3 separate regions of the Homo sapiens genome follow, and regions 1 and 2 are each reported to be linked to region 3. The links are microRNA targets in miRTarBase. Many come from high-throughput screens and were not tested one by one. Region 3 holds a microRNA gene; each other region holds the end of a gene's coding sequence.

Region 1 (11,332 bases), not on the chromosome of region 3:
AGCTGTCCAATTACTATAAACTATGTTATTTGTTTTTTGTTTTGTTGGTTTCTTTTTTTTTTTTTTTTTTTTTGAGACAGGATCTTGCTCTGTTGCCCAGGCTGGAGTGCAGTGGCATGATCATGCCTCACTGCATCTTCAACCTTCCGGGCTCAAGCAATCCTCACACTCTGCTAATTTTTGTTATTTTTTTGTAGAGACAGGATTTTGCCATGTTACCCAGGCTGGTCTCAAACTCCTGAGCTAAAGTGATCTACCAGCCTTGCCCTCTCAAAATGCTGGGATTACAGGTGTGAGGCAACACACTCAGCCTGTTACTTCTTATTTTTACCTTTAGTTGCTTTTCATCACAAATAGAAATACAGGTAACTTAAAACATGTACTTTTTTTTATACAGTGTAGAGACTGAAGTTGGTGATTACATGTTCTGCTTTGACAATACATTCAGCACCATTTCTGAGAAGGTGATTTTCTTTGAATTAATCCTGGATAATATGGGAGAACAGGCACAAGAACAAGAAGATTGGAAGAAATATATTACTGGCACAGATATATTGGATATGAAACTGGAAGACATCCTGGTCAGTATGGTCTTCTAATAAAATAAAAATTATTAACAGCCAGAGGCCTTACTATGGTAATAAGTTACTGAACTAAGCATTTTATCTGCATTATCCAGGAAAATCTGTTTCTAATATTTTATTTTTGCCATAAATACTTTGACCTCAAGTATCAGCTTAATTTTATTTTATATTAATATAGCCCTTTTATAGTTTTCAAATAACTTATCTTCCAGGACCCTATTATAAAAATAGCTTCAGATGTGCAAATAAGACTGCATCTTGGTAAGTTTGTTTTATAAATGTGCAGTTAGAATTTTTAAATTATAAATAGATTATGCTTCTGATTATACAGCAGGCATATGAAAAGTAAAATGTTTTCTAATTTCACAACTATTTTGTGGTATTAAAACATTGGGTGTTTTACTGAATACTAAATTGTTCAGATAAACATACAAAGAAGGAAATATTATAAACACATGCATTATGTAATAGGTAAATACCTAAAGTTATATCAATTGGGTTTTTAAAAATGAAATCATTTGCCAGGCATGGTAGCAGGTACCTGTAATCCCAGCTACTCAGAAGGTTAGGGGGAGGATCATTTGAGCCCAGTTCAAGGCTGCAGTGAACCATGGTCACACATATAAATAGATACTACACTCCAATATAGCAAGACCCCATCTCTAAAAACTTAATCATTTGACCAGGCACAGTCTCAGGTTGCAATGAGCCGAGATTGTGCCTAGGCAAACTCCATCCCCCGACAAAAAAAAAAAAAAAAAAAACCTTAGTCATTTCCTTTGGTTGTGTGAGGACTAAGAAAGAGATAATGTACGTAAAACTCCTGATGCTATGCCACTCAGAATAATTTCATGTTACCTATTTTCAATTCACAGTAGCTTTGTTCCCTTGTTAAATAACTACTTATAAACAATATAAATATGTCAGGAGAACTATTATATAACCTTACAGAGAATCTCTAATGTAATATAAATAGTACCTGCCCTTTAATTGAATTGTGCAGCCATCTAACTTAAAATTGTGTTTGGATAAAAAACATAAAGCATATTTTGAAAAAAACTTTTTTTGAGACAGGGTCTCACTCACTCTGTTGCCCAGGCTGGAGTGCAGTGGCACCATTATGGCTCATTGCAATCTCAACCTCCTGGACTCAAGTGATCCCCCCACCTCAGCCTCCCAAGTAGCTGGGACCACACTTGGTGCTACCATACCCATCTTTTTGTAGAGGCAGAGTCTGTCTGTGTTGTCCAGCCCAGTCTTGAACTCCTGGGTTCAAGGGGTCCTCCTGCCCTAGTCTCCCAAAGTTCCAGGATTACAAGGCATGAGTCACTGCACCCAGCCTCATTTTTTAATTAAGTTAAAATTTCTGAGCATTCTTTAATAATAAAATTATTTTATTTATCTCCAGGAATCCATCAACAGCATCAAGTCCAGACTAAGCAAAAGTGGGCACATACAAACTCTGCTTAGAGCATTTGAAGCTCGTGATCGAAACATACAAGAAAGCAACTTTGATAGAGTCAATTTCTGGTCTATGGTTAATTTAGTGGTCATGGTGGTGGTGTCAGCCATTCAAGTTTATATGCTGAAGAGTCTGTTTGAAGATAAGAGGAAAAGTAGAACTTAAAACTCCAAACTAGAGTACGTAACATTGAAAAATGAGGCATAAAAATGCAATAAACTGTTACAGTCAAGACCATTAATGGTCTTCTCCAAAATATTTTGAGATATAAAAGTAGGAAACAGGTATAATTTTAATGTGAAAATTAAGTCTTCACTTTCTGTGCAAGTAATCCTGCTGATCCAGTTGTACTTAAGTGTGTAACAGGAATATTTTGCAGAATATAGGTTTAACTGAATGAAGCCATATTAATAACTGCATTTTCCTAACTTTGAAAAATTTTGCAAATGTCTTAGGTGATTTAAATAAATGAGTATTGGGCCTAATTGCAACACCAGTCTGTTTTTAACAGGTTCTATTACCCAGAACTTTTTTGTAAATGCGGCAGTTACAAATTAACTGTGGAAGTTTTCAGTTTTAAGTTATAAATCACCTGAGAATTACCTAATGATGGATTGAATAAATCTTTAGACTACAAAAGCCCAACTTTTCTCTATTTACATATGCATCTCTCCTATAATGTAAATAGAATAATAGCTTTGAAATACAATTAGGTTTTTGAGATTTTTATAACCAAATACATTTCAGTGTAACATATTAGCAGAAAGCATTAGTCTTTGTACTTTGCTTACATTCCCAAAAGCTGACATTTTCACGATTCTTAAAAACACAAAGTTACACTTACTAAAATTAGGACATGTTTTCTCTTTGAAATGAAGAATATAGTTTAAAAGCTTCCTCCTCCATAGGGACACATTTTCTCTAACCCTTAACTAAAGTGTAGGATTTTAAAATTAAATGTGAGGTAAAATAAGTTTATTTTTAATAGTATCTGTCAAGTTAATATCTGTCAACAGTTAATAATCATGTTATGTTAATTTTAACATGATTGCTGACTTGGATAATTCATTATTACCAGCAGTTATGAAGGAAATATTGCTAAAATGATCTGGGCCTACCATAAATAAATATCTCCTTTTCTGAGCTCTAAGAATTATCAGAAACAGGAAAGAATTTAGAAAAACTTGAGAAAACCTAATCCAAAATAAAATTCACTTAAGTAGAACTATAAATAAATATCTAGAATCTGACTGGCTCATCATGACATCCTACTCATAACATAAATCAAAGGAGATGATTAATTTCCAGTTAGCTGGAAGAAACTTTGGCTGTAGGTTTTTATTTTCTACAAGAATTCTGGTTTGAATTATTTTTGTAAGCAGGTACATTTTATAAAATGTAAGCCCTACTGTAAGGTTTAGCACTGGGTGTACATATTTATTAAAAATTTTTATTATAACAACTTTTATTAAAATGGCCTTTCTGAACACTTTATTTATTGATGTTGAAGTAAGGATTAGAAACATAGACTCCCAAGTTTTAAACACCTAAATGTGAATAACCCATATATACAACAAAGTTTCTGCCATCTAGCTTTTTGAAGTCTATGGGGGTCTTACTCAAGTACTAGTAATTTAACTTCATCATGAATGAACTATAATTTTTAAGTTATGCCCATTTATAACGTTGTTTATGACTACATTGTGAGTTAGAAACAAACTTAAAATTTGGGGTATAGAACCCCTCAACAGGTTAGTAATGCTGGAATTCTTGATGAGCAATAATGATAACCAGAGAGTGATTTCATTTACACTCATAGTAGTATAAAAAGAGATACATTTCCCTCTTAGGCCCCTGGGAGAAGAGCAGCTTAGATTTCCCTACTGGCAAGGTTTTTAAAAATGAGGTAAATGCCGTATATGATCAATTACCTTAATTGGCCAAGAAAATGCTTCAGGTGTCTAGGGGTATCCTCTGCAACACTTGCAGAACAAAGGTCAATAAGATCCTTGCCTATGAATACCCCTCCCTTTTGCGCTGTTAAATTTGCAATGAGAAGCAAATTTACAGTACCATAACTAATAAAGCAGGGTACAGATATAAACTACTGCATCTTTTCTATAAAACTGTGATTAAGAATTCTACCTCTCCTGTATGGCTGTTACTGTACTGTACTCTCTGACTCCTTACCTAACAATGAATTTGTTACATAATCTTCTACATGTATGATTTGTGCCACTGATCTTAAACCTATGATTCAGTAACTTCTTACCATATAAAAACGATAATTGCTTTATTTGGAAAAGAATTTAGGAATACTAAGGACAATTATTTTTATAGACAAAGTAAAAAGACAGATATTTAAGAGGCATAACCAAAAAAGCAAAACTTGTAAACAGAGTAAAAATCTTTAATATTTCTAAAGACATACTGTTTATCTGCTTCATATGCTTTTTTTAATTTCACTATTCCATTTCTAAATTAAAGTTATGCTAAATTGAGTAAGCTGTTTATCACTTAACAGCTCATTTTGTCTTTTTCAATATACAAATTTTAAAAATACTACAATATTTAACTAAGGCCCAACCGATTTCCATAATGTAGCAGTTACCGTGTTCACCTCACACTAAGGCCTAGAGTTTGCTCTGATATGCATTTGGATGATTAATGTTATGCTGTTCTTTCATGTGAATGTCAAGACATGGAGGGTGTTTGTAATTTTATGGTAAAATTAATCCTTCTTACACATAATGGTGTCTTAAAATTGACAAAAAATGAGCACTTACAATTGTATGTCTCCTCAAATGAAAATTCTTTATCTGAAATTTTAAAAGACATTGATTCCACATGTAAGGATTTTTCATCTGAAGTACAATAATGCACAATCAGTGTTGCTCAAACTGCTTTATACTTATAAACAGCCATCTTAAATAAGCAACGTATTGTGAGTACTGATATGTATATAATAAAAATTATCAAAGAAAATTAACTGCCAGTCATTTGTAAATGCTGTCTACTCCTGAAAGCCTTCCTTCATCTCTATTTAGTTAATAATGTGCTCTCTCCTCCTGTTTTGAAACCCCATAGCTCTCTACACCTCTTATTGTACATCACTCTACTTTGCATTGGAGTTCTGTTTCTATATGTACTTATTCACCTGTTGCCTAAACATGCACTGTTCCTAAAAGGTACAGTTTTTGCTCAAAATATATGAAAGGAAAGATAATCAGTTCTTAAAGTTTGGTATGCTAAATAAGCACCCAGGGAACTTACCTGCTCCACCTCACCCCAGAAATTGATTATTCAGGTCTGGAATATGGCTCAGGATTCTTAATTTTCAACCAACACAATATAGAATCCTGTCAGTTATCCTTGGATCATTTGCTAAGTGATCTTGCAAAATCAAAACTCCTTTGAGACTATTTCATTTTCAGAAATATTTTAAAACTTGTTCAGAAACATCTTAAAACTTGTTAGCATATAGGAAAAGTACAATGCTTGGTGTAGGTAGGTTATTATTTGGTCATTTCCCTCAAACCATCCAGACAAGCCACTCTTCTACCACAAGCTGGTAGAAATCCTTAGGCACCTTTCTGCTTCTGCACTGCTATCACTTTCAGGTGTCTAAGGCTTCTGGAAGGCTGTTGTCATAACCTGGAGCCATACACCTAATGTACGTCTGGGGAAAGGACACCAATTAAAGAATCTAGAGCTAGGATGATGTTACATAAGACAGGGCACAATGGAGATGGACTCTGGATCCCTGCATCTGAAAGAAAAAGGCAAGAAAATGCAGGGCAGGGAAAATCCTGAAGGTCTTCACTGACCATGAATTAAAATCCTAATTGACAGTTTTACAAACAAAAACCCTCGTTTTAGTACTTGTGTTGTTTTTGTTTCTGTTTTAACAAGCTTAGATTTATTATTGTGCCTTTTATGGAAGATGAGGAAGAAATAGGAAAGCAGTAAAATGAACAATGAGAATCTGTTACCCAAACTGATATAAACTCCCTCAGAAAGAAAGATACTACTCCCTAATCCTGGAAGTGTTAAGTGGCAATAATGATCAAATGTTGTAAAGGGGATTGTTACTACAGCTAATATGAAATGGGAGGCTGGACTAAATCTAACCTTTCTACCCTTGATTTCAATTCTAAAAGGACACGTAATACCATTGCAGAAAGAAAAGACAGTTCCAAATGATAAATTTTAGAGTTGTTTTGCTAGGATGCAAGAGAAATTGGATAAGTGGACCACTCATACGTTGCTGGTGAGATATGAAATAGTAGAGCCACTGTGGAAAATATTCTTGGCAGTTTCTTATAAAACTAAACATACATTTAACATATAACTGGCATTTGTACTACTTGACAGTTATCCCTGAGAAGTTAAAACTTAACATTCACAAATGTTACATAGCACCTTCATTTATAATAGCCAAAACCCGGAAACAACCTGGATGTCCTTCAAAAAGAGTGAATGGTTTAGTATGTCCACACCATGGAATACTAAATAGTAATATGAAGGAACAAACTACTGATACATGTAACAAATTGCATGGACCTCAAGGGAATTATGCTTGGGTGGTTTGGGGGGACAATCCTAAAGTTTTACACACTGTATGATTCTGTTTTTGTAACATTCTTAAATAATAAAGCTATAGAGATGGGAAACAAGATTCGTGGTTGCCAGGTCTTGGGACTGAAGGGAAGGAGAATGTGGCTATAAAGGGAGCCTTGTGGTGGAAAAGTTCTGTAGTTTGATTGTGGTGATTACATAAATATACATGTGAAATGTTAGAAGTATTTATAGCTGAAACATATTAGTATGTTGGTATATACATATTTCTGACTAATTAATTTCGCCATGTTGCCCAGGCTGGTCTCGAACTCCTAAGCTCAAGTGATGTGCCCGCCTCAACTTCCCAAGTGCTGAGATTACAGGCGTGAGCCACCATGTCCGGCCTGTTTTTTCCTATGCATGCATAATTACGATCAAGTTTAATTTGTAATTAGGCACATTAAGAGATTAACAATAGCTAACAAAATGGAACAATTACAACAATATATTGTAATAAAAGTTATGCAAATGTGGTTTCTCTCTCTCAAAATATCTTGTACTCACCCTTGTGAGGCTGTGAGATGTCATACAATGCCTACATGAAGAGATGAAATGAGGTGACTGATGTAGGTATAAGTGATGTAGTTAGGCTACATTATCATCAAAATAACTTCGGGTAATCCTGGATCACTGAGCCAAGGTAATGTTGATGGTTAAGGAGCAGACAATGTTGATGGTTGGGGATCCTCAATAGGTGAAGGATTTCTATTTTGGGGTCTTTTTGCTGAAAAATTTTGGAAGAACACTGTAACCAGAAGTTGTTGACTCTTCAGCTCATCGAAGTGTTGCTGCAGAGACTGTAATCCTTTGGTGATCATATTGGTAACTTTAATGCTGTGTCTCATCTGAGGATCGTATTCTATAATTCTGTTGTTTAATGTCTGTGCAATTCAAAACACTTCGGCAAGTTTAATTAATGTCTATGTTGGCTATTCTGCTTCAGTTTTTTTAATCTTCCTCTCCCTCTGCAGATGACTCAAAAATTTCTTCCAATTCCTCATTTGTTAACACTTCGTGATGGCCTTTGATATGCTCTTCATCAAGCACATCAGCAAATCCTTCACAAGTTCTGTGAAGGATTGTCTTGTCTTGCTACATGATTTAAACTTGCCATGGGTCCCTAGGAAGCCTTTAAATCATATATATAATTCCACATTCTTCCAGCAGGTATTTACCTGTTTCTGGTTTTAATTCATCCACTGCAGCTTTGATGAATGTTATCACATGAGCAATAGTGAATGATATCCAGCACTGCATTATATACGTATTAGGGTCTGCAGCAATTGCTGACCAAATGTGTTCAAATATCAGGCAGTTGTATGTGGCCCTGACAAACCGAATGATGCCCTGTTCAGGGACTGAAGCAGTGAGGTTTTATCTGGAGGTAAAAATACCACCTCAACATTTTCATTTTCATAGCAGACAGATTCATGTATTGTCCATTATTAATACTTTAAATTCTAACCCTTTCTCTTTCAAGTATTTTTGCACTTCTGGGATGAAGCACTGGTGGAACCATTCCATAAAAATGGCTGTCACCCACACTGATTATGTTGCCAAGACACATAATATTTTGTTTTGTTTTCGAGATCATGTAGGTTCTTCACTCTATACACTACACCTCGCTTTATCATATGCCCTGCAGCAATGCCATATAGTACCAGAGTTAATCTGTTCTTCCATGCTGTATGCCCTGATACCGCCGCATTTGCACTTTTATGAATCTAAGTTCTATTGGGCATCTTCTCCCAGAAGAGCCTGATGTCACTGCAATTGAAGACTTGCTTTGAATGGTATCCTTGCTCCTTAACTTCAACTCTGCCGGAAATGAGGCAGCAGCTTCTTCATCAACAGACACAGCCTCTTCAGTAATTCTTAAATACTTCAGTCCAAACCCATTCCTGAATCTGTGTAACCATCCCTTATTTGCAGCAAATGGCTTGGTATCACTCATTTCAGGAGATCCCTTGCTGAATGTTTGTATAGGCTCAGTGCTTTCGCGGCAACACCCTGACGTCAGCTGGAACACATTTCTTTCTGTTCGTGTCTTCCACCCACAAATTTAACCCATTTATACCGGAGGTTGCAAAATCTGTGAAAAATCAGACCTTGGCAATGACCTTGAGCAGCAGGATATAAATAACTCTCACAAGCTTAACGTTCCAATAATAAAACACTAGGCATAAATGGGCTAATGCCTTTTTCATCTTAAAACTAGCACGAATGTTTTTTCTTCACAATTTCATGAAGATCTGTTCTTACCTTAGATCTTACCAATCTCTGCATATAATTTTCTTCTCAAGTACTTTCACCTTTTCAGTTTATGACTTAATGACTTATCTTTGGCATATCCAATTGCCATCATCTCTACACTTATACCTTGGGGCCACAATAAAGTAAAATAAGGGTTACCTGAACACAAGCACTACAATACTGCAATAGTTGATAGGATAACCAAGATTATTAAGTGTCTAATGGTAGGTAGCATATACAGCATGGATAGGCTGGACAAGGGGATGACTCTTGTGTGAGATTTCATTACGCTACTCAGAATGGCATGCAACTTAACACTTGAATCCACAGACAAGAGGTGACTACTGTAATGTCTTTGAAAATGCTAGGCCCTCAAATATTGAGTGACACGCTCATTCTTGACTCCAGGCCTTATTCTGCTCCTTCATGTTGAAACTAGATTTTCTCTTATGTAGCCTCTATTCAAGCTAACCCATCCTTCAAGGTAAAACCTAACAAATATTGCAGTCCAGATCAATCTCATTTCTCCAGCAATACAGCACATATTTTGATACCTGTAGTCATCTACTGTTTTCAAATGTTACTTAACAATTACGCTTATGTCCTAACTCTCCAAGACTGTACTATTATACTATAAACAATACTTTCACCACCACCCCCCCAAATTCCACCTCCTTGATTTTATGCTATAAAATACACTATCCTATTTTTGCCAGTTAAGATCCTATCATCCTTCAAAGCCTAATTCAAATAGAATTAATTCCCTTTCAATAAGTCTTTCCCTTGGTATCTTTCTTAGGCTTACTCTAAATGTCAATGGAACTTTGTACCGATACTCCATAGTAATTATCAATTTCAACTCAAATTTAGTTTATTTATGTCTATCTTCCATAATTTAAGAACTCAGAGGCAGGCTCCTAATCTTTCCTCTATCTCTTCACAGCAACTCATAGGCATTCAAAACATGATTGCTGAATTTGAATAAACACTTAATACAACCACACAGAATTTTACATCTCAACCACTTTCAGAAAAACTAAAGCATAAAAGAAAAAATCCTGTAATACTATAGTGAGTTGACTTGTGTCCCCCCGAAAAAGATATATCCAAGTCCTAACTCCCAGTATCTGTCATCGTAACCTTATTTGGAAACAGGGTCTTTGCACATGTAATTAAATATCTCCAGATAAGATCACCCTGCATTTAGAATGGGCCCCAAATCCAATGACTGTTGCCCTATAAGAAAAGGAGAGGAAGATTGGAAATAGGGGAATGCCTCATAAAGATGGAGGCAGAAATTGGACTTATATGTCCAAGAATTACCAGCTGCAACCAGAAACAATAACAGGCATGGAAGGGATTCTCCCTCAGAGTATCCAGAAGGAACCAACCTTGACACAAACTCAGTTTTAGACTTCTAGCCTCTAGAACTCTGACGAACTGCTGCTATTTTATGCTGCCAAGTTTTTGGCAACTTGTAGCAGCTCTAGGAAATTAAAACAAAGGCCTCAATAGCAGAGCCCCAGAAAAAATTTTTTAGAAATAATAGCAATAATGAAGTTAAGAAATAAACATTTCTGAGTTTTATTTAATGAAAACCATACTTTGCCTGTACTTATGATGAACAGGATTTTGATTATAAAGCAGTGACTCATTTTATGTTGTTCAGCGCAACCTCTTAAAATGTCTTGTGTTAAAAGTATATTTTTAAAATGTTAAACCAAAGCTTTTACCACATTGACTATTCTCTCTCTCTTGCTGTGTGTACGTACACACACACACACACACACACAAACACTTTTTTTTTGAGACAGAGTCTCATTCTGTCATCCAGGCTGGAGTGCAGTGGCGTGGCCTCTGCACACTACAGCCTCCACCTCCCAGGCTCAAGTGATCCTCCCACTACATCCTCCCAAGTAGCTGGGACTACGTGTGCCACCATCCCCAGCTGATTTTTGCATTTTTTGTAGAGATGGGTTTTCCATGTTGCCCGAGGCCGGTCTCAAACTCCTGGGCTCAAGTGATCCACCCACCTTGGCCTCCCAAACTGCTGGGACTACAGGCATGAGCCACCGAGTCCGGCCTAGACAATAATTTTTAAAATTCATGCAATTTCTAAAGAGAATGATCCTAATTAAGTTCTATGTTATGATGGTTATTTTCAGTACAATCTACGTCTTTTTTAATTTTTTCTGAGACGGAGTCTTGCTCCGTCGCCCAGGCTGGAGTGCACTGGTGCGATCTCGGCTCACTGCAAACTCCGCCTCCCGGATTCATGCCATTCTCCTGCCTCAGCCTCCCGAGTAGCTGGGACTACAGGCACCTGCCACCACACCAGGCTACTTTTTTTGTCTTTTTAGTAGAGACGGGGTTTCACTGTGTTAGCCAGGATGGTCTTGATCTCCTAACCTCG
Region 2 (11,332 bases), not on the chromosome of region 3:
CCTGTAATCGTGGCTGGCCAATATTTGGGAATTTTTAAAGGTTTTTTGCTGAATATATATTTTTACAAACAAATTTACAGGTATATTTTATTGTGGTGGTTTGATTCATTTAATTAAGAACAAAATATTTTATAGTCTTTGAGAGCTAAACATGTTCCTGATTTTATCATCGTGTAAACAGACATATAGTAGCCAGTAAATGGAAAGAAGCAATAGAAAGCCGTATAAGAGGTTTGAGATGAAATATAAAATATATATTGTTAAGCTTTTCTATAGTTTTTTTTTTCCACATAAGATTTTGACTGAAATACACAGGGACAGCTGAAATATTAAAGTTTGAAAAATTGTGTATTTTGTGTGAGCTGTTAGCTTGTTTTTCAGCCCTGGCTAAGATAAATCATCTCTTGAGAAAGATTGCATCTTTTATTATTTTCATACTAACATTATTATTATTTTTTAATGGATTACATTCAAGGCAGAAGAGTAAATGGCCCAGAGAGACTTATCTTTGGAAATAAATGTTAACAGACAGTAAAGTTTTCTGTGGATCTGTAGATTTTTTTTTTTTTTTTTTGAGACAGAGTTTCTTGTTGCCCAGGCTGGAGTGCAATGGCATGATCTCGGCTCACTGCAACTTCCGCCTCCTGGGTTCAAGGGATTCTCCTGCCTCAGCCTCCCGAGTAGCTGGGATTACAGGCGTGTGCCACCACGCCTGGCTAATTTTGTATTTTTAATAGAGATGGGGTTTCTCCATGTTGGTCAGGCTTGTCTCGAACTCCCAACCTCAGGTGATCCACCCGCCTCGGCTTCCCAAAGTACTGGGATTACAGGCATGAGCCACTGCACCTGGCCAGATCTGTAGATGTTTAACCCTTCTGTTGAAACAGCTGGTGGCATGGAGACAGCAGCTTTCTTTCAAAGCTGAAAGGATTTCCAAGCCAGTTTATGGTACCTTCCTTGGGTTTAGTAAATCTCAGCTTCACAGTAAAATTCCCTGGCCTGCTTAGGTTTGAACATGGCTAGATCTGTCTTTTCAGAGACAGAGCTTGTTATTATCAGTTACTGAAACCTACAATGTTTTCCTTAATCCTAATAGGTTACATATGTAGCGTGCCAATTTGCTTCTGCTCAGTTGTTTTTATAATCAAACTTTTATCCGGCATTTCATTAGTGCCTCTTACCTGGGGCAGTCTTTTTAATGAACATTATTAAGCAGCCCCTTCATCACCATGCTTGCTGTGCTGCAGGCTTCAGAGGGAGTGTAATCAATTCACCTGGTTGCAGATGACAAGAGTGGCTTTCTTTTTATTGGGTGTTGATACTTTAGGGTCCCTATTATGAATGTTTTATGAGCAAAGGTTTGATTCATGTCTGTCAATGTAAGAATGGTTTAATAGTTGATGCCAGGTTCAGATACCGAAGGGAGTTTATATAAAAAAAGCAAACTGCCACCTACTAATAACCTTTAAAAAGTAATATTTCTCAGTCATTTTTCGTTATACATTTGAGGTTGTCAATGAGAAGGAAACTAAAATTTCTACTTAAAAGTTTCTTCTGCAAGCAGTTTAAAGTTATTGTTTTTCCTATTGTAGCAAAAAATAAAGACCTACATTTGAAGGTATCTATTTTATTAATAAAATGTACTGAAGCTGGCCGGGTGTGGTGGCTCACGCCTGTAATCGCAGCACTTTGGGAGGCTGAGGTGGGCGGATCACCTGAGGTCAGGAGTTCAAAACTGGCCTGGCCAACATGGCGAAACCCCGTCTCTTCTACAAATACAAAAATTAGCCAAGTGTGGTAGCGCACTCCTGTAATACCAGCTGCTAGGGAGGCTGAGGCAGGAGAATTGCTTGAACCCAGAGGGCGGAGATTGCAGTGAACTGAGATCGTGCCACTGCACTGCACTCCAGCCTGGGTGACAGAGCGAGACTCCATCTCAAAAATAATAATAATAATAAATAAGATAAAATGTACTGAAGCCTATTCAATAATTTTCATAGTTTCTTAAGAGTTTGGATGGGGGTTGGGGAATATACATTTTCCAGTAAAGTTTGAGGTTATTACCTGGGTATATGTGGTTCTGCATATTAATGACAGAATACACCAACTTGGCTTATATATTTGTGTGGGAAGAAAAGGAATAGGAAAATTTTTCCTGAAATAAGTAAACGTATTGTCAAATTAGGGGTTACTTTGAGATCTCTTATAAAAGTAGTTCCTTAAGCCTTAAGCCTGACATGACATTCTGTGGTGGCCTGGGATGAAGGTCATATCATTTTTTTCCACGTTTTCCCCCTCTGTCTTGAACGTAGTTTCTGTTGTGAGATTATGGTACATGGATGCTAATCAGTAGATCCATATATTACCTGAAGGAAAACTTCCTTGGCATTTCTGCACATGGAGAGTGTATAAATGGTAGTTTGGTGGTAAATTCATAACTCTTTTTTTGTTCTTTTGTCAGGGTATGGGATGATGGGATCATTGATCCAGCAGACACCAGACTGGTCTTGGGTCTCAGTTTTAGTGCAGCCCTCAACGCACCAATAGAGAAGACTGACTTCGGTATCTTCAGGATGTAACTGGAATAAAGGATGTTTTCTGTTGGACATGTACTGAAAATTAACACATGTAGTAGCCTTAAAATTTTAGACTTCTCGAACATGAGGCTGTTACAGTAATTTTTTTAACACTGTGCATTGTACTTTTCTACCTTAAAAAAATCAGTGAGGATATTTATTTAATGAACATCAATTCCTTTTAAATTTTCTTAGAGAAATTTCTCTGTGGCTCAGTTTTACCACCCATAAAGCGGAGACAGTAATTTACGGTTATCCTTTCTGACCCACAAAGTATGAAAAGTTCTGTAATCTGTAAACTCAGTTCTGTAATCTGTATTATTGAGATGATTAATATAAAGTTGTATTTTCACTGAAATGATTGTTTTGCTGGTTATGCTTGGTGATATTTTAGCGGGCTTATTTTTGAAAGGCATCTGTTACTTCAGTGGCATAAAGTGCCCTCACACTGCTGTGCAGCCATCACCACCATTCATCTCCAGAATTTGTTCTCAGTCCCAAACTGAAACTATACCATTCAAACAACAGCGCTCCCCATTTCCCCCTCCCCCGAGCCCATGACATCTCCTTATTATTATTTTTTTTTTGAGACAGGGTGTTTCTCTGTTGCCCAGGCTGGAGTGCGGTGGTGTGATCTCGGCTCACTGCAGCTTCCACCTCCCGGGTTCAAGCGATTCTTGTGCCTCAGCCTCCCAAGCAGCTGGGACTATAGGCACGCACCACCACACCCAGCTAAGTTCTGTATTTTTAGCAGAGACGGGATTTCACTAGGTTGCCCAGGCTGGTCTCAAACTACTGACCTCAAGTGATCCACCCGCCTCGGCCTCCCAAAGTGCTGGGATTACAGGTGTGAGCCACCGCGCCTGACCACATCTCCTTATTCTTAAATGTATGTGTTTCTCATGGTTTGATTTATTCTTGCTGGGCCATTTCAGCCCCTGTCATGGCTTCACTCGCCATCTAAATGCAGATGATTACTGCCTTGACGGTTCTTAACCCAGCTCTCCCCTGAGCTGCAGGCCTGCATATCCAGTAGGTCTACTGGACATCTGTACTGGTTGTTGTGGAGGAACCTCTGGCTTGCTCATTAAGTCCTACTGATTTTCACTATCCCCTGAATTTCCCCACTTATTTTTGTCTTTCACTATCGCAGGCCTTAGAAGAGGTCTACCTGCCTCCAGTCTTACCTAGTCCAGTCTACCCCCTGGAGTTAGAATGGCCATCCTGAAGTGAAAAGTAATGTCAGATTACTCCCTTCAGTGATTTCTTGTAGAAGTGCCAATCCCTGAATGCCACCAAGATCTTAATCTTCACATCTTTAATCTTATCTCTTTGACTCCTCTTTACACCGGAGAACGGCTCCAGCTGTTCTAGCTCTCTTTCAGTTCTTTGAACCTTCCCACCTTAGGGTCTATAAGGTTCCCTCTGCCCAAATTGTTCTACTCTCCCTTCTTCTTCAACACATCCTTCAGTTTAAGCACTTGCTTCTCTCAGTTTAAACTCCACTTCCTTAGGGATGTCTCTGTGACCTCCCTGTGCTGGATTAGCTTCCCTACTCTATGCTCTTGTAAAACACTATCTACTTCCTTTGTCATAAACTCATCATTTTCCTATAAACATTAATATTGTCCTCCTGCTAGAATGTAAGCTCCGTGAGAGCAAGGATCCTCCTGTTTACCCTGTACCTCCAATGTCTGGCACTTGTAGGTGCTCAAATATTCGTTGAATGAATGAAAAATCCATATTGTAATTGATGTCCTCTGGCCACATAGTTTTAAAATTAGGTGATTGATTATATGACCGAATAGAACTATCAAATGTTTTCCTAATAAAGTCAATATTTCAAACATTTGTGTGTGATATTTAGTATTTTAAACATTTGTGTGTGATGTTCAATGTGTACCAGGAAGTCAATTTAGTTTTTGTGGGGAGAATATAGATAGATGATCAAATTCAGTGGTAGGTTACATTTTCAGAAGCAATACATTAAGTATATTAAAATAGTAATATTAAAATTTTAATGAAAATGCACATCTATGTCAAAATGATTTTCTATATAAAGACTAGGTAATATTCCTTTGGTAGGAACCATTAACAAGTCAAGGATTCATGGATATTTTAGGACTGCTTTTGCTTTTCTGGGAAGAAACTGTCCATCAATAAAACCACATTTAAGTGAATTGGATTTTTTAAAACTTATTTTTCTAGAGGCAGGGTCTTGCTATGTTGCCCAGGCTGGACTCGAACTCCTAGGCTCAAGCAATCCTCCTGCTTCAGCCTCCCAAGTAGCTGGGACTACAAGCTTGCACCACTACGCCTTGCTCTATTTTGTATATTTTACCCAACAATAAACATTTATAATTGTCTTACCAAAATAGGTAATACTTTTTAAACATTTTGACTATCATAAATATGAATTCCAGCAAGGATAATATGAGCTACTTGGAATTTGAAGAAATATACAAGTTAGTCTCTAAATTTGCCCCTGTTGGTACTTAAAGAATGAAAAAGACAAGATTACTTCTATTTTTCAGTTTATAAGAAAAGTATTTTCAAATCGAATTTGTTAAAAAAAAAAAAACACTTCTGCACCAGCAGAAGGCACTATTGAGTGTTTGAGTGACACCATCATTTGCCAACATGCTTATGTGTATGTCTCTCCAGAGAGAGGCCATATGTTTCCTTCACAGGGATAAATCAAAGCAGGTTTTGGAATGATACATTAATAAGATTATTTTTGAGAGGCCACATTAGTTCTAAAATGCATTGAGTTTGGTTTTATGGAAGATTAAATCTCCACTAAGAGTCTTGGCGATTTTTTTTTTCTTAGTGATCTTCTAATGATTGGTTCTGAAGTTTCATATATGGAAAAATGGCAAGAAGATGAACTAGGTTATCATAGCCTAGTGTCATTCATAACATTTCCCTTAAAATGTTACAATTAAGTACAATTAATATTTAATGATGACATAGATTTTAATCATTTTCGACAAAACGTTTTGTGCCTTTCCACTAAACGCTTAAAAATAGTTTGTTTCAGCGGGGCACCCTGGCTTAACACCTGTAATCCCAGCACTTTAGGAGGGTGAGGCAGGAGGATTGCTTGAGCCCAGTGGTTGGAGAACAGCCTGGGCAACATAGCAAGACCCTGTCTCTACTTAATAAATAAATAAATAGGTAAATAAATAAATAGTGCTTTTATTTTATGTGCTTCAAATTCTCTTGTATCTGGAATCAGGATCCTGAGGACTAAGTTTTTCTTAGGGATGAATGAAATTTCTATGCCCCTTTTACCTTTCTAGGCAAATGTACATTCCATCAAGTTGACTGTGTAACTTACCATCCACATTGGGGCTTTTGAGAGTGAGAAAAAGGGGGTCTTAATAATAACTACACTGGGAAACAGGTCTGAACTGGGACCGACTCATCCCAGTTTGAACTGGGATGTGTGCTCGCTGCCTGTAACATCATCATGACTGAATACTTTGTTTGCATATCAGCTTTTGAAAATTCTTAGAAGCCTTCGCTCAAGATACCTGCTTCATGACTTTCAATATAGATTTCAGTATGATACCAGTCACATAATATGTGTGCATTAGCATTCTAGGGAGTCATTTAATTGACCCTAGAGGAGAGTTTACCATAGGGCAGGGATGATTTTGTTTCCCAGCTGTTAGTTTTCTGAGATCAGTGGTTCAATATGTCTGGCAGCTTTGTCTTTCACAAACCAAGTCACATGTTTGTGCTACTTTTTAGGGTAAGCAAGAGAAGTATTTTTCAGGGAGAATAAGGTCTTAGAAGGTGATGATTTCACAGAGAAGTTATCGCAAGGAAAATATACCCAGAACCAGATGTTAGAAGTAAGCTGGAGTAGAAAAAAAAATTTTTTTTTTTTGAGTCAGGGTCTCGCTCCAGTGCCCAGGCTGGAGTGCAGTGGCGTGATCTTGGCTCACTACAGCCTCTACCCCTTGGGCTCAAGTGATCCTCTCACCTCAGCCTCCTGAGTAGCTGGGACTCGGGCACATGCCATCACGTCCGGCTAATTTTTGTATTTTGTAATTTTTGTGTTAGCAGAGATGTGTTTTCGCCGTGTTGCCCAGGCTGGCTTCAAACTCCTGGACTCAAGTGACCCGTCTGCCTTGGCCTCCAAAAGTGCTGGAATTATAGGCATGAACCATTGTGCTCAACCAAGAAAAACAATTTTTTTAAGTGTAATTCAGTAAGTGTTGATTGTAAGAAGTGAACTCAGAAGAAAAACAGGTAGAATTTTAGAATACTCAGACTAATTTTAAACGTTCCTGTAGAAAATGTATTCAACATTTTTCAGCCACAGCACTGTTAATGACATTCCTTTATCTACCGGATAATTAGAAATAATTTTTGTCTTAAAGTTATTTGTAATCTAAAAATCTAACAATGTTACTTGCGGAAAATTTAGGAAGACAAAGTGAAGAAAATAAAGTGAAAAAAAAGCTTCATAATCTCACTACCTAGAGATAACTGCTATTAATATTTTTCGTGTACTAGTCTTTTTCTATCTTTACGAATTTTTTTTTTTTTGCAAAAATGCTGTGTGCTACATGTTATTCTGTAATCTGCATTTCACTTAATGTATTGTAAATATAATGACCTGTTTACATGAAATTTAATATTCTGCAAATTTTTTTCTTTTTTGAGATGGAATCTCACTCTGTTACCCAGGCTGGAGTGCAGTGGCATGATCTCGGCTCACTGCAACCTCCGCCTCCGGGGTTCAAGTGATTCTCCTGCCTCAGCTTCCTGAGTAGCTAGGACTACAGGCGCGCGTCACGACACCCAGCTAATTTTTGTATTTTTAGTAGAGACGGGGTTTCACCATGTTGGCCAGGCTGGTCTCGAACTCCTGACCTCAGGTGATCCACCCACTTTGGCCTCCCAAAGTGCTGGAATTACAGGTGTGAGTCACCGCACCCAGCCTAATATTCTGCAATAACTCTGATGTTGCACGATAATGCAGTGCATGAATCCTCCCTTTGATTTAACTACTCCCCTATTGTTGTACCTGTAGGTTTTTTCTGGTTTCCCACATTACAGATAATGCTGCAGTGAACATCTGTTTAGTTTCTTTACATATCTGTGATTATTAGGATACATTTTTAGCAATAGTGTTGTTGGATAAAAGTGTACAGGTTAAAGTATACACAGACCTTTAAGACTTGTTGGTAAGTTTTGCTCTATAAGTGTATATTATGGTATTTATTGCTGGATGTAATGGTTACCGTGGTGTTTTTAGATACAGAAATAGCTTCCCATAGAATTAAATTGTTTAGCAGAAACCAATGTTTTCTTTCATTGTTAAAAGTTGTGTCTAGGCTGGGGCATGGTGGTTCATGCCTGTAATCCCAGCACATTGGGAGGCCAAGGCAGGCAGATCGCGCGAGCCCAGGAGTTTGAGACCAACCTGGGCAACATGGTGAAACCCTGTCTCTACAAAAAAATAAAAATAAAAAATTAGCTAGGCATGCTAGTGTGTGCCTGTAGTCCCAGCTACTCAGAAGGCTGAGGTGGGAGGATCACTTGAGCCCGGGAGGCCAAGGCTGCAGTGAACTGTGATCGTGCCACTGCACCCCAGCCTGGGCAACAGAGCGAGACCCTGTCTCAAAAAAAAAAAAAAGCTGTGTCTAAGTGACCATGTCACATTAGCAACGAGTTGTGAAGACTGAGCATTAATGCATGGGAGGTCACGGTCGTGGAGAGAACACTGGGCGGGGTGTGGACCGGTTTCGCTCTAGTTCAGCTACTAACGCGCTGTATGAACCTGAGGAGGATGGGAGGGGATTAAAATCAGCCTTTCTGGCCCAGTGATTGTTTTCCTTCCCTCCTTCTACATGCCTAAGTCTTTTCTCCACCTCTCCAGATTCCCTCTTTCTCTGCTAGTGGATGGCTAGGGAAGGTGGGCCGAGGGGTGAGGACTGGAGGGAAGGGTAGATAGGGTATGCTGAGAGCCTTTTTTATTCCACAGGAAAGCATGTACCTCAGGGCTCGGTGGGACTCATGGTGGCAATCATTTACCAGGAAGACCCATTCTCCAGTTGGTCACAGCTTGTTTTGTTCAAATGAGCATACATTTACCGAGGGCTCACTATGTGTCGGGCTTCGGGATGGTACACAAAGATAAGAAGACGTGGCTCCTGGCCTGGTGCAGTATCTGGTCAGTGACTTGAGGGTTATCTTCAGCCTCTTGGTACCCCTCTGTCTTCTTTTGGTAACTGTACTTTCATTCTCTTTGGGAACTACCCCTCTCCTGTTCTGCACAGTCTTGGCCAGTGTGGCAAGCAAAGAGCCCTGGACACCAAGGGCTGGACACATGTTGAGGCTTGGCCAGGTGGACTCTCTCAAGTGCTTTGACTCATTAGCAGAGAGACAAAGATGGAAGACGAATGACACTGAGTTCAAGTAGACCTGAAGAAGCTGTTCGTTCACTCACCTCTGCTCCAGGGTCCCTGGCACAACCCTGATTACTGAGAATCTGTGAGTCAGAGGCATCTGTATCCTTCCAACAATCTTATTTATTGATTTATTTAGGAGAGTCATGTTTCAATGCTTGTAGCAACCAACCCTACCTGGCAACATGTTCTTCTGCAAGCCAGAGGTTACAGTAAGTCACTCTATGTTTTCAAACTTGGTGAAAGAACGATGGTATAGACAGAAGAGTAAACTGAGAATTTTGGTCCTCAAATACACAGAACATTCAAAGGAGGAGGGTTGTGGCTTCTCACCACCATCCCCAGTGAGGATGGATTGAATGTTTATTTTTTAAATGTAAATTAGTTAATGATTGATTGAGACAGGGGCTTGCTCTGTCATCCAGGCTGGAATGCAGTGACATGATCATAGCTCACTGCAGCCTTAAACTCCTGGGCTCCAGGGATCCTGCCATCCAGCCTCCTGAGTAGCTTACAGGCATGCGCCGCCATGTGGGGCTTCTGGATCAAGGGTTTAAATCGTCACAAGGGCAACTCAATTTATTGCAATGTTTTGATCACTGAAATATGTCACTGAGCAAGATGTTAGGTTACTTTTAATTGGAAATCTGGCTAAAAATCTGAAAGTCTACCACTGGGGATAGTTTAAAGACAATCATACCAGGAGACAGAATGTAGTGACTTCTTGGGTAGTCTTAAGTGGCTTTTGTATAGCCTTAAGGCCACAGTGATGGTCTTATGAATGATAAACGAATTGTTGCCCAGGCTGGTCTTGAACTCCTGAGGTCAAGTGATCCGCCAACCTCAGCCTCCCACAGTGCTAGAAGCGACTGCGTCCAGCCCAGAATGTGCATTGCTAACAAGTTTTCACCTGACACTGATGCTGCTGGTCTGGGGATCATGCTCTGAGAACCACCACTCTCAATGATCTCTAAATTCCTTCCTAGCTCCAAAATGTTAGGATCCTAAGATAAATTTCTGCTTTGTGATATTATCATTCTTGCATATTTGCTAGGTAATTGTACATTTCTCTCCCCCATTTTCAGGGAAGGGTGAGTTTGTATTAACTTCTCGGTAAGTAGGTGTTCTTTTAGATCAGTGATTCACAGCCCAGACTGCACATTAGAATCACTTGAGAAACTTTGAGTAAGAAAAATCCTGACCAGGTGCAGTGACTCACGCCTATAATCCCAGCACTTTGGGAGGCCGGATTGGGGGGCGCGGATCATGAGGTCAGGAGATTGAGACCATCCTGGCCAACATGGTGAAACCCCGTTTCTACTAAAAATATGAAAATCAGCTGGGTGTGGTGGCGCATGCCTGTAATCCCAGCTACTTGGGAGGCTGAGGCATGAGAATCGCTTGAACCCAGGAGGCGGAGGTTGCAGTGAGCTGAGATCATGTCACTGCACTCCAGCCTGGTGACAGAGCAAGAAATCTGCCTCAAAAAAAAAAAAAAAAGGAAGAAAAAGAAAAAATCCTGAGGCCCTGGCTGCATGCCAGGTGAACTAAACAGACCTGTTCAGGTTAGGACCCAGGTATCAGTAGTTTTTAAAACACTCTCAAGTGACTCTGATGTGCAGTCAAAGCTGAGAATCACTTCACAGAGGAAGGCTAGATCAGTAGATTTCAAAATGGGCACTGTTCATTTCAAGACACTTTCATGAATTTAAAATCTTAAATTTTACATTGTGTACAGTTTTTCCTGATAGAGCTCACAGCGCAGATAAAAGTTGGCCTTATTTTGGTTTCTTGACCTACCTCGTTTCAGGCAAACTGCTGGAAGTGGGTACCGATAGCTAAACATTTCTAAAGAGATCCCTGGTGATGGAAAGAAATGAGATCAGAGCAAAAACAAACAAGCAAAGACAAGGATTTTATATAATGGGCCATCACAGTAGCTGGCATTTTGCTTCCAAAGGATCATCTCCAGAGTCATTTCTGCTCTGGTGGCTTTGTTGTAACTTCTTAGTGGATTAAACAGAGGGTTTAGGTCTCTGAGGATTCTTGCCCATTCATTTCCAGCCGACCATGACTAGACTTTTAAAAAAGGGAGTATTAGGCCAGGTGCAGTGGCTCACACCTGTAATCCTAGCACTTTGGGAGGCCAAGGTGGATGTATGGCTTGAGCTCAGGAGTTCAAGACCAACCTGGCCAATGTGGTGAAGCCCCATCTTTACTAAAGATACAAAAATTAGCCAGGTGTGGTGGTGCTTGCCTGTAGTCCCAGCTACTTGGGAGGTTGGGGAGGGCAGATCACTTGAGCCTGGGAGAAAGAGGTTGCAGTGAGCT
Region 3 (11,332 bases):
GTTGTTCTTTAGAATGATCATTCCCAATTAGGCACCTTTCCTTCCTTACGTCCAGCTGTTAGAGAAGACTATATCTTCTGCTTCTTCCTTATAATAACAGAGAAAAGCTAAATGGGGCACTTGCGTCCTTAGGAAAGTTTATCACCGAAAACTATCATAAACCTGAAATCTCTCTCAATAATCATCTGTTGTAAGGCAAAAACCCTCTTGAATTAAAATTGCTTTAATCAATTAGGACTCTGGTATTTCGGTAACAAATCTCCATGGAAAAAAGTCTCTGATTTAGATTAGTAAAGTGAGATTCTGGTGTGAATATAAGAAGTCTCAAAGTTCTCCCAGATTCCATTTGTGCCTTTATGGTCCCCTGGTGAGTTTTATCACTGGGTAGAATTCACAAACCAAAAATAAAAAAAAAAAGAAAAACATTTCACACGGGGAACTTAACAAGAAAAAACAACTACCTTATAGAAAACAGATGGCTAGCGATACTAAAGCCGAAAGGCTGTCAGCTGTGTCTTCAGCCTGTTTTTCTATGCTTTTATAAATTGGCAGGAAAAACTCCTTACATTTCACTAAAAGGGGCCCAGCCCATAAATGATTTGCTAAAGAAATCTGAAAATCCATGTTTTTCAATATGAAATATGTAAAATGTTTGAAAACTGATTTTTCAATGAGGATTTTTCAAGCTTCTATTTTGAGAGATGATTCTGGGACATTCCTTGAATTATTCAGAAATGAAGAGAAAATGGTGTAAATAAAATAATAATTTTATGTCAAATTTCCTTTTTTCTCATCTTTTAAAATCTCTCTTTTACGTGCAAAAGCTACTAGGTACTAGGTGACATTTACTTTTGTAAATCACCTATTTGATTTCAAAAGGGACAAGTTATAGTGTATGATTTAGGAAATCATTTTCAAATTAGGAATTGAAGAGCAACTTATCTGTATCATACATCCATTTAAACTTCATCCATGTTAAGATTTAGGGGAAGAGGTTGGATTATAATTCAGCCATTTACCAAATACACATATTATGCAGCTACATTAAAGACTGTGTGGTGGGAGGTTTACCGTAATATAAAGTTTATGCCCTCATGTGGCTTACACTTGTTTGAAATTGTGCTCTCTTAATGGTTCTGCCTGCAGCAGTTATAAATTATATGAGCATATGTGACCTTGAAGCAAAGGAAGATGAAATAAATTAATAGTTAGCTAAAAATGTCTGTATTGTGATATTCTAGAAATCTTTTTGGCCATAGAACTAAAATCTTTTTCCCTCCTTATATTCCTTCAGTTTGATTCAACAAAAATGCGTTTTCTGTCTTCTCCATGCCAGACACTGCCCTGGATTGTGGTGATAGGGCAACGGACAAACACATTCCTGAATACTTTTATTTCTGAAAGAAACAGTCTTGTCTAATTTCACATGAGAATTTTCCTTCCTTTAGTAATTTGTGGGAAGATGGAAGTATTTTGTGGTTAGAACCTATGAGTATGCTTTTAGACTATTTACTCCAAATCCTTTTAGTCACTGAGATATTTTAAGAGGTGAGTCTATGAAATAGACTTCTAGAAGTAAGTGTCAGGATTTGAGTTTTGATATACAGCCTCTTTACAAATTTATTTACTGATTTATTTAACAATGATTTTTGAGCACCTAATATGTGCTCAATTTAAAAGGGCATTTACTTGTAAAGACACTCATCATATTTATTCCTAATTTTTGCTTTAATAGCTAGGCTACTCTCCACTGAAGCAGGGTATCTATGTGTTGTTCATAGCTGTACCCCTTACACCTAGCAAGGGATCTAGGACATAGTGGGTCTTCACTGTAGCCACATGAACTAAAAGGGAAATGAGGAAATAAAATCAGAGTATTGCCACCATATTTAAATAGCCACCTTGGCTCTGAAAAGATTTCAAACAGATCTAGCTAGCATCTAGTATCTCTTCTACACAGATAAGTTTCCATTCCATTTTACAAATGAAATATTAGAGTATAAACCAGTCTACAAACCTACCTTTTACACAAGTGCCTGTGAAAAATTTAGTTTATAAAGCCCAAGTCACATCACAAATGCTTAATATATTTATTTTTATTTATTCAACACATTATTGACTACCTTCTATATCTTAGGCACCATATCAATGTTAGAAATATAAGTGTTAACAGACAGAAAAGATTTAGTCCTTAAAGAGCTTATACTCTAGTGGAAAGAAACAGGAAATAAGCAAATATTATACTTACTAACCATACAATATGTCTAGTAGCAAGAAGTGTTACCAAAAATTCAGCAAGGTAAAGACAAAGAGCTCCAGGAGAAAAGTGAATTGAGAGGAGAGCGGGGACTGAGCTTAATTTTGAATAATCAGGGACAAGCTCACAAATAAAGTAGAATTTGAGCAGAGACCTGAGGGAAATAACATAGTATTTTCAAATGACGATTCTTATTGGAATAAATGTCATCTTTAAGTCCTGTCATCATAAAAAGTGGTATCAAGTTCTTTCTTGGGTTACCGGAAATAACTTTGACAGCTAAGTGAATTGTAAAGTTCATAAAATGGAACAATAAGTTTCTTTGCCTAGGTAATTTCCCAGCAAATAAAATGCAAAGCATCAAAAAGGTTTTTTTCTTCTTAAACTGCTCAAGCCATTGTAAAAATTTCACGAAAATATGAAATTCGCTGAGAAAATTTAACATTTGTTTAATTTCTTGGGTGAAAAAAATGTCTTAATGAATTAGATAGTCTTAAGAGACCACAGACAATCAGGATATGTTATTGGACAAAAAATTTAGGGTCCAAGGTTTACTTTGAGATGCCATTGGACATTGAAAATCTCTTTGAGCAAAAACAGCAACTAGGCCTGGAGCTCAATAACAGCTCTGTCTGGACCCGAAGGAGGGAAAATATGTGATAATTTTTTGTGTAATTAGGCTTCAGGAAAACACATTGATGGTACCCTAATGAAATATGCATTAAAAAACTGAATTGTTGAAAAGAACAAATATATCAAGTATGATTCAATTAGTTTTAGAGTTCCTCTAAGAGAATTTCTTCATCCATATACATAATTTTTAGCTAAATTTACCTCTCATACTTGTTAAAACAAATTAGAGGAGAAAAAGAAATTATACGTGTAAATTAGTAATTATGTATTTCTCATAAGAATACCTAAATATTTCAAACAAGGCAATTCTATGTAATATAATTGATAAAATGTGAATACTGAACTTTGGGTTAATTCAGAGGCTGACAGATTTTGATTATAAGGTATCTATTAATTCATCCACTGAGGTTCATATTTTGATTGTCTTGTATTAAAATGTCTGTTCTTTGAAAAAATAAGTCATTGAGTTGTATGGACATGTAATTAAACATAGTCATGGCAAAGTTCTCTGACCTCAAGTGGCCAGAATAGCCACGTTTTGCATCTATTTTTATGATACGTAATCATGGTCTGGTTTTTAGAGACATAAGTAGAAGTTTCCTACCACATCAACATTCCTAAATAACAGTATCATTTTGGTACAGACAACTTCAGAAAATCAGAGAAGAAAAAAGGGAACTTGTTTTTGGAAAGGTTACAAACCTGATTTTACGTTTTTCTTTTAATTTCTGTTAAAACAGAGGAAATGAACTTTGTGTATTTAAGGGAGCTGCATAGACTTATTAGTCCTGGCTGCAGATATTAAGTAAAAACTATCTTAACTTTATAATAATTTGAATGTACTTTTATTTAAGTCAAGTATCTTTAATATCTTTGGAAAAGAAGAATAGTATTGAAAAACAATGAGTGAAATTCAAATAACCAAATCACAATGTATAAGAAAAAAAGATGCATTCAATGTAGTTTTTAACAATTCATCTCATTTATTGTCAAAATTAATAAAACAGGCTGGGTTCAGTAGCTTACGCCTGTAATCCCAGCACTTTGGAAAGCCGAGGTGGGTGGATCACTCAAGGTCAGGAGTTTGAGACCAGCCTGGCCAACATGGTGAAACCCCGTCTCTACTAAAAATACAAAAATTATCTGGGTGTGGTAGTGCACACCTGTTGTCCCAGCTACTCGGGAGGCTGAGGCAGGAGAATCGCTTGAATCCAGGAGGCAGAGATTGCAGCGAGCTGAGATCGCACCACTGCACTCCAGCCTGGATAACAGAGCAAGACTCCATCTCAAAAAAAAAATTAATAAAACAATATTAATTGAGTGTTCCCTGGCTGAGTGTTCTGGAAATAACAGTTGGGGAGATATAAGCAATTTCTCAGAGATAAAGAAGTTGAATATAGAATGCTCTTGGGCAGCAGTGTAGAGATTAGTTTGAATTCATTAACAGGCAAACCAATCTCTACACTACTGCCCAAGTACGACTTTTTTTTTTTTTTTTTTTTTTTTTGAGACCGAGTCTTGCTCTGTCGGCAGGCTGGAATGCAGTGGCGCAATCTCGGCTCGCTGCAACCTCCACCTCCCGGGTTCAAGTGATTCTCCTGCCTCAGCCTCTCGAGTAGCTGGGACTACACCACCTGCCACCACGCCTGGCTAATTTTTTGTATTTTTAGTAGAGACGGGGTTTCACCATGTTGGCCAGGATGATCTCGATCTCTTGACTGCGTAATCCACCCACCGCGGCCCCCCAACAAGTGCTGGGATTACAAGCGTGAGCCACCACACCCAGCCTATTCAACTTCTTTATGAAAGAAAGAACTTCTTGTGGAATACATGCCAGAGGGTGTTGGCTGCCTTTAATCAGACATCTTGAACATCAACTAACAGCATTGCATTTACTTGGTTGATAGTGATAGGGATGGCATGAAGTCTTTTCCTTTGTTGAGCTGCGAAATGGAAAAAGGAAGACTGAATCTTCTGAGACAACGGAATGAACTAAGAGCGTCAGGCAGCAGGGAAAGATTCCATGCAGCAAGCCAGTTAGGTGTTCATTACTCTGGGCCTAATGTAAATTGAGAAGGGTCCATCCTTACGACAGAGGGGAAGCTAGAAAAAGAAGCTAGAGAGACCACTTCACCAACCAAGTGTTAATGACAGAATCAGAGGAGTTCAGAAGTTATGTTTCACACAAGAAAAAGATTTTTAAAGCACCATATCCTGCTCTGAATGACTATTTTAGTTTTCCTTCAGGTGTTTATTTCTGAGTGAAGGATTGGGAAGACATACATGAAATCGCTGCCACACCCTCTGCTTGAAAATGACCATGCAGTCCAGGGAGGACACAGCCATACAGAATTGCTTGACCCTTTATGAAAGCTCTTCTTTCACCAACAAAAAAGAAAAAAATACTAAAAATGATATGCTGATTGATTTCTTTGGAATCAATACAGGTTGTTAGATCTGTCATCCTCTTCATCCCACTCTGAGAGTTATTGGTATACTTGCCCTCCATTCTGTATTAAAGCCAGTCATGCAGAACCTTATGCATTCTCACCAGCCAGCTGGCCTTTACAGAGTTAGTTATAATCTAAGCCTGAAAATTCCTCTAAGGTAGTTGGCAATATAAATATAACCTTTTGGCAATTTGCTAGACTCTATTTTTAAAGTACATCATTATCAGCTGGATGTGGTGGCTCACACCTGTAATCCCAGCACTTTGGGAGGCCAAGGCAGGTGGATCACCTGAGGTCAGGAGTTCCAGACCAGCCTAGCCAAATGGCGAAACCCCGTCTCCACTAAAAATACAAAAATTAGCCAGGTGTGGTGGCACGTGCCTGTAATCCCAGCTACTCGGGAGGCTGAGGTAGGAGAATCGCTTGAACTCGGATGGCGGAGGTTGCAGTGAGTCAAGATTGCGCCACTGCACTCCAGCCTGGGAAATAGAGTGAGACTCCATCTCAGAAATAAATTTTAGAAAGTACATCATTGTCAACAGTTTTGCATAAAGCAAATTCAAAATTGATGAACTCATAGAATAAAAAAATCCTACATGAAAATGCCTTCCTGGAATTTGAGGGTCAGCAAACAACAAACCAAGGGCAAATTTCAGGAAAATGAAACAAGTTATGTCATAAATGCCATTCAAAAGAGTTGCACATACATCTCTTAAGCTTGGCTAAAATCAGGAAAATAGGGTGGACAATCAGTTTTTATTATTTAGAAAATGAAATTTCTTCTAATCCCAATTAATTTTTCATTAGTAACAACATTAGCTTCTGCATGCCTTATTAACCACATGAAATTAGTACAGACTGAGAAGTTATACAAGGCATTAATTTTAAAGTTTTGAAAAGTTATCTTGCCTTTAAGGATAGTATTCATATCTCCAGCTCATAACGTTGGGTTGGCTGGACTACATATAACATATGTAATAAATCTTCAATTCAAGTCACAACTTTTCTTCTTGTTATCTTTCTATTCCTATTTTCCATTTCAGCTTACATCATGGCTGTAGTCAAATAATAAAAAATGACTGGCTTAATTTAAAACCATATACATTCTAATTCAAAACAACCAAATTATAAAAACAGAACCTACCACAGATGCTCATGGATTACTGGACTATTACCTCAACCCTATTAGCAACTTTTTTCTTCCTAACCTGGATATTTAAGTAATACATAATTTATAATGGAGATATTTTATGAGAAAATATTGCCACACAGTCAGTTGTGAGTTATTAAGAGTAACACATGGGCTTTGAACGCTCTATGAATCTGCAGAGTACATATCTGGTAAAAGAAATACTGCCTAAGCTTGAAAATGAAGTACTGCAATGATTTCTGACAAATCCTACTTCTCTGTGTCATAAATATTGGTTACAAACAGTGAACTGAAGAACAAAAGATAATACTCCACATGGCAGTTTATCATTCATAATCCGTAGGCTAATGTCTTTCAATTGTTTTGGCTTCAAGTAGTTGCAAACACTATGCTTATATCTACACATTTAGGAAATCTCCAGATTAATGAAAAAGAACACATATTTTATAAGAGATATTAAAAGATCATTCAGTTTAAAAGGATTTTGTTTAAATTGGTAGTAGCTATAATAGTGGTAATAGGAGAGGCAGCAATAGAAGCTTACATTCATTGAATACTTAATATGTGCTATATATTGTCCTAACTGTTTTATATTCTTGATCTCACTTAATCCTCAATAAACAGTATCATTCCCATGAGGCAACCAACAGTAGCTCACAGCAACTCCCATCCCTCATAAGTGATAGGCCCTGGATTTGAAACAAGAGAGTGTTATTGCAGGTGTAAACCTTTCATCAGTAAGGAGGATCAGCAGAGAAAGAGGTCCACCAGTCACATTTATTCCCTGGATGGGCTATGTTCAGGGAGGTGTTAGAATAAAATGATTGCGAGTGGGATGGGACTTACTGAGCTAGGCCTGACTAAAGCTCTGTTTTCTCAGCACTGAAAGTGCAGAAACTTAATAGTTAAGTCACCTTGTATTTATCAGATTAATTTTTAATGCTAATCTATGCTACACATGTTCATAGGAAATTAATTTGTGTATAAAAAGACAACATATTATTCTGCAAACCAGAAAGTTTCCAGTGAGCTAATCAGCATCTTCTAATGAAAACCTTACTGCTATGTACACAAAAATACCTGAGTACAAATTTACATGTATATAAATACATATTTATATATATGCTTATATATGTATATACTTATATATATGTAAAAGCTTCATATGTGTGTATTGAGGATATAGATATTTTCTTTTACACAGGTGTGGTTACACAGGTTAACTAGGAGGTAGTTATATATACACTCACATTTGGCATCTGTATATTTTTTCTTTTTTATAAATATATATGTATATAAAAATATCATACATGTATAACAATGGAGAAATCTTGTGTTTGTATGTTTACACAGACAGACATAAACACTATGAAATTTTATGATGCTAACAATAATACAATGATATGGAGAGTGGGGAAAAGAGATAGTCAAATTTCCAAACCTGATCTTTCTATACTTTTTAATGTTATATTTTATAATAGTTATTATATTTTATCTTACATTTATTTTTAATACTTGGAATTAGACCTAAATTCAACCTTATTCAAGTAATCACACTGCTTTTTTCCATTTTCTTGCCACAAGTACATTGTCTTGCCAAATATATTTAGTTTGGTTCAGTTAGTAAAACATGGCAAGCTATAAACTTGCTTCACTTTCAGCTACTTACAATCTGAACTTTATTTTCATTTTAACTGCTGATGGCCCAAACTTTTTATTGTCTGATAATATTCATCATTTTGAAAAATAGAAGCCAAATGTCAAATAAAATGCTGAATCTAAATTCCATCTCTTTAGTGTAGTAGAAATCTATATTATAGGTTCTATAATTACAATTATTAATCTACAGTTAACAAATGTTTTCTTCGTTCGTGTTTATTCTGAATAAAACTAACTGGACCAATCTCTTCAAGCAAAAACACAAACATAATACATTAAATATAGCAATAGAATGTGATTTATGGATCTTGAGTGAATTATCATTGGTCTTTTATAGGAAATGACAAGAGGTATAAAATTATCACAGAAAATGAAGTCCTACTCTTACATGAGAGATGTCTTCTGAAGTTTTGAAATCTAATAATAACATATATATCAAGGCCACGCCTAAATCCAAATTCTGTATTGGCTCATGTTACTTGATGAAGTCATTTTGTACAAGTAGCAAGAAGGAAGACTTATGTTCTGATCACTATTGAAGAACACAGGATTAGAGAAATCCAAATTTGGTGAGCTGGGTTGATTTTGTACTGAAATTTTAAGTAATATTCTTTTGATGTAGTCACACATTGTGTATTAAACAAAAAATGATACTTTTCACTTAGAGGAAAATGCTTTTTCTTATCTTATTAATTTGTTAGCCATGGATCCAGGAAATATTTTCCTTTCTCCTCTACAATAGAAAAAACAGCAGCACATGGACTAGAACCTGAGCTAGCTTCTAACTGTGCAGAAGACAGTGAGTTGGGGGCGGGGGATGGGTAGATGGGCTGTTGAACTGGGGCTTGTGCAATACTCATGAAGGCTTGAACCACCATTCAGCACAAGGTGATGGGTGCATAAATGATGTGTGCCTAGGATTTCTCAGACCTGGCAAATTTTAAAGAGAAGATAGAAATCAATATTTGTGTTTGACATCTCTCAATTGTTTGATGTTAATGATGTAATTCTAATAGTTTTTCAAAGCACTGTTTGAGCCCAGGAAAATATCTGTGTGGGCCTAATCCAGTTGAGGACTCCAGGTTTAGGATATACATATATAAAATGGAGTCTTGCTCAGTCACCCAGGCTGGAGTGCAGTGGCATGATGTCGGCTCACTGCAACCTCTGCCTCCCAGGTTCAAGCAATTCTCCTGCCTCAGCCTCCTGAGTAGCTGGGATTACAGGTGCATGCCACAATGCCCAGCTAATTTTTGTATTTTTTAGTAGAGACAGGGTTGCACCATGTTGGCCAGGCTGATCTCGAACTCCTGACCTTGTGATCCACCCTCCTCGGCCTCCCAAAGTGCTGGGATTACAGGTGTGAGCCAATGCACCCGGCCCGGTATATTTTTAAGGTATTATTTCCAGCCTCTGTCTAGCTCTACCCTTATCTTACTTATTAATATGTCTTGATTTGCTTCTGTTTATATATCACATATAGGAAAAATCTGAGAAGAAATGCTCAGATTTCTTCTCAGGCGATTCTACTGTCTCTGCTTCCAAATATTAACTCATACATGCTTAATTGAAATATATATAGATATTTGTATATACAACTATTAGTACACACATATATATTTCCTTGCTCTGTCAGCTGACAGAACACAGAAGCAACAACTCCCAAGTAGCAATGAACACACCTAGGTCCCAGATTGTGGTTTCTGATAGCATTCTCCAATATAAGGAACAAGAGCTCTTTGAATAAACAGCTGATTCTAGGACTGGGCCAATAAATATACAAAACGAACCTAGAACATCTTATAGTAACCGAAAGTAAAAAAGTACATACACACAAAAAAGCCCACATGATGGGGATATATCAAAGGGACACAGAATACAACTGAAAGACTTTCCAGTGGCCAAAACTGAAACAGTTTGACAAATAAAATAAGCAAAGTAGCATTCAAATATCACCAAAAATGTAAAATAAATATCTATGAGTCCATACCGATGTAAATACATACAAAATATAAAATAGAATAGGACAAATCTCCTATGCAGAATTGCAAATGATTTATGTAGCTACCCCACCCTTTAAAAGTTGAAGAGTAAGTCTCCACTCCTTAAGTAAGAACTGTATGTACATAGTGGCTTCCTTCCAAAGGGTACAGAATGGAAAAGGGAGGAAACAGCAAATTTACAGTGAAGACACAGGACAAATACCACCCCAGACAGGTGATCAAATTTAACACCAGGCTTGGCGCGGTGGCTCACGTCTGTAATCCCAGCACTTTGGGAGGCCGAGGCAGGAGAATCACTTGAACCCAGGAGGCAGAGTTTGCAGGGAGCTGAGATCACGCCATTGCACTCCAGCCTGGGCAACAAGAGTGAAACTCCCTCTCAAAAATAAATAAATTAATTAATTATTAAAGTTTAATATCAGTAATAATAATTCATGTTGATAGTTGAGAATGGCACTTTACCTCCTCCCAACACCCAGAACTCCAGTCTAATCATGAAAACAAAAATCATACACATCCTAATTGAGGGACATGGTACAAAATATCAGGCCAGTACTCCTGAAAAATCGTCAAAATCCTAAAAAACAAGGAATGTCTGGAAACTGTCATAGCCAAAAGGAGCCTAAGGAGACATGCAACTAAATGTAATATGGGATCCTGTGAGGGATCCTGGAACAGAAAGAGGTCATTAGACAAAAACTAAGAAAATCTAACTAAAGTATGACTCTAGTTAATAGTAAAATATCAATATTGGCTTATTCGTTGTGAATGTAAGATGTTAAGAAGAGGGAAAATTGGGTCTAGATTATTTGAGAACCCTTTGTACTATCGGTACAATTATTTTGTAAATTTAAAACTTCTAAAATTAGAAAGTATATTTTAAAAGTGACCAGATGTTGGCTGGGTGCAGTGGCTCACGCCTGTAACCCCAACACTTTGGGAAGCCAAGGCAGGCAGATCACGAGGTCAGGAATTCGAGACTAGCCTGGCCAATATGGTGGCACCCCGTCTCTACTAAAAATACAAAAATTAGCTGGGCATGGTGGCGCGCACCTGTAGTCCCAGCTGCTCAGGAGGCTGAGGCAGAAGAATCACTTGAATCCAGGAGACAGAGGTTGCAGTGAGCCAAGATGGCGCCGCTGCACTCCAGTCTGGGCGACACAGAGAGACTCTATCTCAA

What was found. Region 3 holds the annotated microRNA hsa-miR-3129-5p (GCAGUAGUGUAGAGAUUGGUUU, at 4,340-4,361, opposite strand). A microRNA usually pairs through its seed, bases 2 to 8, with sites in the 3' UTR of a target mRNA and lowers its output. Matches are read on the target gene's strand: a 7mer-m8 pairs with bases 2 to 8, a 7mer-A1 pairs with bases 2 to 7 and ends in A, and an 8mer does both.
Region 1: the mRNA of TMED5 is a reported target of hsa-miR-3129-5p. Seed matches in the 3' UTR shown: 7mer-m8 at 4,150-4,156 and 8mer at 6,579-6,586.
Region 2: miRTarBase lists MCCC2 as a target of hsa-miR-3129-5p. Seed matches in the 3' UTR shown: 8mer at 3,368-3,375 and 7mer-A1 at 3,671-3,677.

What each region holds. Positions count from the first base shown.
Region 1 is chr1:93,145,549-93,156,880 of GRCh38, reverse strand. It overlaps TMED5 (transmembrane p24 trafficking protein 5), which reads left to right. Exons shown (of 4, transcript NM_016040.5): 3 at 398-581; 4 at 1,993-7,139. The coding sequence ends at 2,211. Among named protein-coding and RNA genes, the nearest start is that of TMED5, 29 kb to the left of the region's middle. RefSeq lists a silencer at 10,132-10,332.
Region 2 is chr5:71,654,282-71,665,613 of GRCh38, forward strand. MCCC2 (methylcrotonyl-CoA carboxylase subunit 2) reads left to right here. Exons shown (of 17, transcript NM_022132.5): 17 at 2,462-4,425. The coding sequence ends at 2,579. Among named protein-coding and RNA genes, the nearest start is that of CARTPT, 59 kb to the right of the region's middle.
Region 3 is chr2:189,128,743-189,140,074 of GRCh38, forward strand. It overlaps MIR3129 (microRNA 3129), which reads right to left and starts at 4,369; the gene lies at 4,294-4,369. All of the region lies in intron 1 of COL5A2 (collagen type V alpha 2 chain), which reads right to left.